Linked DNA regions of Homo sapiens. The protein of the gene in region 1 purifies or fractionates together with the protein of each later gene. This does not show direct contact. Each region holds a gene or a part of one and is shown on either strand. Other genes may lie near its edges.

Region 1 (3,500 bases):
CGAGACCAGCCTGAACAACATGGCGAAAGCCTGTCTCTACAAAAAAAATACAAAAATTAGCCAGGTGTGGTGGCACATGCCTGTAACCCCAGCTACTCAGGGGGCTGAAGTGGGTGGATTGCTTGAGCCTGGGAGGCAGAGGTTGTAGTGAGCCGAGATCGGTCCACTGCATCCAGCCTGGGTGACAAAACTAGACTCTGTCTCAAAAAATACAAATATAAAAGAGCCAAAACAAAAAATGGGGTTTGTACTTATACATTATATTTTTCCTTTTATGAGGTCGCCTGGTCACAGCATGAACTGAAGAATGTAACATCGGGTGCTCCCATCATGCTTTCTGTCCTGATAATGTTTGCTGTACATCTCTGCTTAGGCACTCACATCTCATAATTATTCCAAAATATAATGTTTTGCTTAAAAAAAATGCTCATTTCACGTAAAAAAATCCCCCAAATATGCTGCAAATGTTACTGTCCATCTGTGCATATTTGCAGGTGTCAAACAACTGGTGAGTGCTGACAATGCATTATTATGTACCTAGATGATTCAGGGATAATTTATTAGTAATATTTCCCCAATTTATGATTATCTAAAGTATGCACTTACAAATGTGCAATACCATTTCAGCCATTAATGGCAAAGTTAGCCAAATAAATGATCATTTATCAAAACCCAGAAACCGACACAGGCACAATCTACTTAACATTTCAAAATTAAGTTACCACTAATAGAAGCATTACAATTTTTCCACTGGATTATAATGGGAAATCATGGTTTATGTAAGTTTTGGCCTATGAAAAAAACATTTTATAATCACTTATAAAACACATTTTGTTTTTTGTTTTTTAGGGACAGGATAGGGTCTTGTTCTGTTGCTCTGGCTGGAGTGCAGTGGCGCAATCACAGCTCGCTGCAACTTCTAACTCCTGGGACCCAATGATCTTCCTGCCTCAGCCTCTTGAGTAGCTAGGACTATAGATGTGCGCTACCACACCTTGCTAATTTTTTTTATTTCACATGTCTTCCTGAAAAAGCCTACTGCTACAGTTAATTTTATGGTACTACATTAAATCATCTTATAAGTTTATAAAACTTCTTTATCAAGGCTTTTGAGAAAAGATCCTATGGCTCACAAGTACTACAGAAGTACAAGCAATGGGGCAATCGGAGCAAGTACAGAAACATTTGTTGTGTACTTAAAAAGCCTTTTCACTATTAAGGCCTACTAATCATCATGATGCCAGTTTTGTTATAAACAGGGAAATACAGGTGATACTGTGATACTGGATACATTATTAGGAATAAATCCAGAAGTGATTTCTGCATATTATAGACACACTCCCTTGAGCTATCTTCACAATCTTATCACACTTAAAATTCTAGGAATTTTAATTTTGTGAAATTCAGCAATTTTAGTTGATAAAACTTAAATGCAAACTCTTAGGACTTGTCATTTGTCATAACTTTATGTAAATACACCTCTTTCTTTTAATAAACACATACTTCAAAATTTTTAACATTTTAATCTATTTAAAATTTATATATTTTTTGGTGCTCAGTATGAGGGAAAGAATCTAGAGTGACTTTCTCCAAATGATCAGGCAACATTATTAATTGGAACAGACAGCCTTCTCTCCACTAATTTAAAATAATACCTTTATCATCTACTAAATTCTTTTAAGATGAATTCTTGCTCTGTTGCCTAGGCTAGTGTGCAGGGCCGCAATCACAGCTTGCTGCCACCTTAACCTCCTGGGCTCAAGCAATCCTCTAGCTTCAGCCTCTCAAGCTGATAGGCGCACACATCACGCCCAACTAATTTTTAATTTTTTTAGAGACAGGGTCCTGGTATGTTGCCCAGGCTAGTCTCAAATCCCTGGCTTCCATCTTGAACTCGCAAAATGTTAGGGTTTCAGGCATGAACCACTGCACCCAGGATAAATTCTTATTTATACTCGGATCTGTTTCTGCCTGCCTATTGCTTTCTATTCATCTCTTTCTTTTTTCCTGCATTGCTACATTTTATTATCATGTCAGTAAACCCATTACTTTTATTTTTCAAATATGTCCAGCCACACTTCCATGTTTATTTTAAAGATAAACTGTTTTACTAAGTTCTCCTACTATTCTATTTGCATTGATTTTTAATTAATTTGCAATAAATTTGTTAACTATGAGGAGTAAAGTCTTCCCAACATCTTTTTTTTTTGGGGGGGGACAGGGTCTTGGTTCTGTCGCCCAGGCTGGAGTGAGGTAGTGCAGTTAGGGCTCACTGCAGCCTCGGCCTCCTGGGCTCAAGTGATCCTCCTGTCTCAGCCTCTTGAGTAGCTAGGACCACAGGTGTCCACCATCATACTCTGCTTATTTTTAAAATTTTTTGGTAGAGATGAAGTTTCACTACGTTGCTCAGGCTGGTCTCAAACTCGTGGGCTCAAGTGATCATCCTGGCTTTGCCTCCCTAAGTGCTGGTACTGTTCTTGTTCTTCTATCTAGCAATAAGATATGTTTTTTCCATTACATGCAACTTTTATGTCCCTGTCTTACATTATTTATCATAGAAGTTGGTCATATTTCTTAGTATGACCAACTTATTTCTTATTATATATTTTGTATACAATTTCTATTTTGCATTACTGTAATCATCTTTTCTCCTCATTACATAATCAATGGATTAGGCTTTAGGACTATTAAATTTTTTTTTTTTTTAAGATGGAGTCTCGCTCTGTCGCCCAAGCTGGAGTGCAGTAGCGTGATCTCGGCTCACTGCAACCTCTGCCTCCCGGGTTCTCCCACCTCAGCCTCCTGAGTAGCTGGGATTACAGGTGCACGCCACCATGCCCGGCTAATTTTTGTATTTTTAGTAGAGATGGGGTTTCACCATGTTGGTTGGCCAGGCTGGTCTCGAACCCCTGACCTCAGGCGATCCGCCTGCCTTGGCCTCCCAAAGTGCTGGGATTACAGGCATGAGCCATCGTGCCCGGCCAGAACTATTGACTTTTGTATATTTAATTTACATTTTGCCTGTGCCTAATTTAAGTTCCTTATTAGTTCTCATTCTTCATGAATAATGCTAATTTCAATATTTATGCTTCTTTTTCATGTGTTCCTGATTTAACTAAAAATTCCAGAATAGGCCGGGCACTGTGGCTCATGCCTATAATCCCAGCACTTTGGGAGGCCAAGGTGGGTGGATCACTTGAGCCCAGGAGTTCCAGACCAGCCTTGGCAACATGGCGAAACCCCGTCCCTACAAAACTAGCTGGTGGTGCTTGCTTGTGATCTCAGCTAATTGGGAGGATGGCCTGAGCTCAGGAGGTAGAGGCTGCAGTGAGCCATGATCACACCACTGCATTCCAGTCTGGGAGACAGAGCAGGACCCTATCTCAAAAAACAAACAAACAATCTTTAGAATGTTTAAAAATTAAGCAAGTAGGCTGGACGCAGTGGCTCACATCTACAATCCCAGCACTTTGGGAGGCCAAGGCAGGTGGATCACTTGA
Region 2 (3,456 bases), on another chromosome or scaffold:
TGTTATACTATTAAGCAGAGAAATTCAGGAGCAAATGAGGTCACGTATATGAAAACACTGCATACAGTGCCTTGTAGACTACAAAGCATCATAAAAATATGTGGTATTATTACAAATGTATATATTACATATATAATTATATAATAATATATATTACATATACATATTATATATATAATTACAAACTGATTCCTAAAAAGAGATTACCCAACATACGGTTTAGTGACTTAGTAATTTTCTATATTCATGCTATCACAAATAGTATTCAGAATACTTTAGAATGCTTATTTTCTTTTTTTTTTTAAAAGAAAATAGCTATATTTGTGATGTAGCTCATGATTCTGCCATTTTCTGCTTTATGGGAACTGAGGATGTTACTATTCCCTCAGATGGTTATGACTCCCAAGGGAAAGTTATTAAGCCAGAAACTGCTGCTATAATTACCAGTACGTAGACTCTGGATTCTAAAAAAGAAAATGTCACAGGGTCTAAAAGGCAGGTTCAGACAAAGAGAAAATTTTATTTTCTTATTCTTGAAATGACTGTACGATTTTTCAATGTTAAAGTTCACTTTCAAGTATGATCAATAACAAGACATCAAATGTAAAAATTATGCTGTATTATCATTTTCTCCATTGCTTCTTAAACCACTGAAAGTAATTTCACAATTCACCACATTTAGGCATCTTCTTTTTCACTTTCTTCATTTTTTACTTCTTTAGGCAACAATGGATCAATCTTCAGTAATAAACCTTCACTTGTTGAACTACGAAGGAAAGCACGTACCACAAAGGGACCTGGAAACAAAAACGAGAATCAACTTTGATTTTTATATCGCAATACCACCTCATGAGCAAATAAAGTAGGTCCTCACTTAATATTGTCACTAGGTTCTTGGAAACTGCAACTTTAAGCAAAACAACTTATAAAGAAACCAATTGTACCGTAGGCTAATTAATAAGAGTTAAGTTTCTCAGGCATATTTCTAGTCACAAAAATATCACCAAGCTTCTAAATAAAGAGCTCAAACACTTCTAATATTAACCATTGAAATAAATTTGAACTATAAATACATTTAAGATTAATAAAAGCAATAATTATTTACCCAACTGTGGGTGAATCAGAGTGACAGGAGTCATAGTGGTGGTGACTTAAATCAAAGACTAAGTGTTTGCAAAGTGAAAACTGTAAGAAGCGCCTTCTGCCACCGTGCAGTTCAAAAACAAACTAACAAATATGGTTGCCTCACTGAGTGCTTTCATACCACATCATTTATTGTCCTGCATTTGTATGATTATCATATACTTTGCCCATTTTTATTTTACAATAGTTTGTATTCATTAATTCATCTTCCAACTCCCTTATTCCAGTCCAGGGTTGTGGGAGGCCAAAGCCTATCCTGGCAGGTCAGAGCATAGGTGGGAATGATCTCCGGATAAGCAGCATCTCATTGCAGGGCACACGTACACAACCCACACACTAACTCACACCGGGATCATGCAGACATACCAATTAACCTAACATGCCACCTTTGGGATGCGGGAGGAAACCGAAGTACCCAGAGAATCCATGCAGACATGAGGAGAACATGCAAATTCCACACAGACAGTGGCTCTGGCCAGGAATCTATTTTTTTCTTATCAATGTTATAATAAAATAACATTGAACAAAAGGATGTTATTCAAGGACCTGCTGTACAAATATACAACAGGAAAACTTATAGAACTCATGTCATATTTTCAGTGAAAAGTACTGTATTACTGAACTAATATTTTGAATTATAAGAAGGGGAAGATAGTTTCATTTCTAGAATAGAAGACAAACTAGTTGTACTCTAGAATATTAGAGATTTATCCTTCAAACTACACACACTCACTAATAATTCATTTCTCTCTTCCAGAAGATGATCACCTAGAATTTATTTTATTGCAAAGGCAACAGTGAAGGGAGCAGGTGGTGATATTTACATTTGATGGAAATGTTATAAATATTTATTTAAAACAGTCAGCACAGATGCTACCTTTGTGTTACCACACAGTTGGTAAAATTCCCTAAAAACTAAAATGCTTTTCATAAGAACAACGTTAAGTGGCTTCATTTAAAATAGCAAAAAGACAGCCGGACACCGTGGCTCACACCTGTAATCCCAGTACTTTGGGAGGCCAAGGTAGGTGGATCACCTGAGGTCAGGAGTTCGAGACCAGCCTGGCCAACATGGTGAAACCCCACCGCTACTAAAAATACAAAAATTAGCTGGCATGGTGGCAGGTGCCTGTAATCCCAGCTACTTGGGAGGCTGAGGCAGAAGAATTGCTTGAACCCGGGAGGCGGAGGTTGCAGTGAGCTGACATCAAACCACTGCACTCCAGCCTGGGTGACAGAGTGAGACTCCGTCTCAAAAACTAAAATAAAATGGCAAAAAGAGAATCACAACATTTAAACATGCTAAGGGGCTTCATATGAAATAGCAAAAAGAGAATAACAACATTTTGAGGATTTACTGTCCATCATCTACTCCTACTATTGTCTCAAGAGGATCCTGTACTGAAATCAAAGTTATCTGTGGACTCTAAGAATCCATACACATCCAATTACTTAGTAGTATGGCCATATTTAGGGCAAGAAAATTAACAAGGGTGGTATTTATTCACCAGTATGGTTAACTCCCAAAGAAGGTAAAAAATAGCTTAAGATTGTGTTTTAATTATAAACTTGGTTATAAAACTAAACCTGACAAATTCTTATCATGGTAAGCCTACAAATGAGTAGTCAATTGAGTATAATGGACCCTTGCTTGGCTTCAAGCAGCCACAAGTGAAATTTGTCTGAGGAAGGAATTTGAACAGCACACAACGCAATGATAAAGAAACTGGATGCCTGTGTTCTAGCCTACTACACAGCTTCCACATCTCAATTGAGTTGAGTGATTCTCTATGAGTCACCTCATTTATAAATGACTCTCATGACATAATAAAATGATCTTCTTTCTGTCCTGTAATAAATAAATAAGATTAAGAAAACTAATTGCTAGTGCCAATGACAAAGTGAATGATCTGGTTTCAAAATATCATTTTAGAAATAATTTTAGTCCCTAACATCATTGTAAGTTTAAAGCAATCAGTTACAGTTTTCTTTCAAACTTTGCTACATCTATTATTAGTAATAATGTGGGAATCTACAAAGGTTTCAGGATGCATTCCTTATTAATGCTAGAGAAATCCTTTGGAGAATTAAATTTTATTTATTTAATCCCTGGAAATATAAAACTTGCATGTTAACTTGATTTTTTATTTAATATTTTACATTTTGCTATTATACTTGCATGTTAATTTGACTTTTTTCTTCATATTTTACATTTTAAAGTTTCACAGGGTCATAGGGAAGTCTACCCTCAGCAAACCACTTACCCAAATTCAGCGGTCTGTGCCTACAAACTTCATTAATAACTGCTTGCAG

Evidence for each region.
Region 2: the proteins of LSM14A (region 1) and MRPL1 purify together in Homo sapiens (affinity purification with mass spectrometry; one large-scale study listed by BioGRID and IntAct). This does not show direct contact.

The regions. Positions count from the first base shown.
Region 1 is NC_000019.10:34,210,504-34,214,003, reverse strand, and holds part of LSM14A (protein LSM14 homolog A), read right to left. Parts: intron 1-3,500. UniProt on the Homo sapiens protein: Essential for formation of P-bodies, cytoplasmic structures that provide storage sites for translationally inactive mRNAs and protect them from degradation. Acts as a repressor of mRNA translation. May play a role in mitotic spindle assembly.
Region 2 is NC_000004.12:77,949,830-77,953,285, reverse strand, and holds the end of MRPL1 (large ribosomal subunit protein uL1m precursor), read right to left. Parts: coding exon 3,408-3,456; intron 863-3,407; exon of another isoform or gene 798-862; coding exon 679-797; 3' UTR 501-678; downstream 1-500.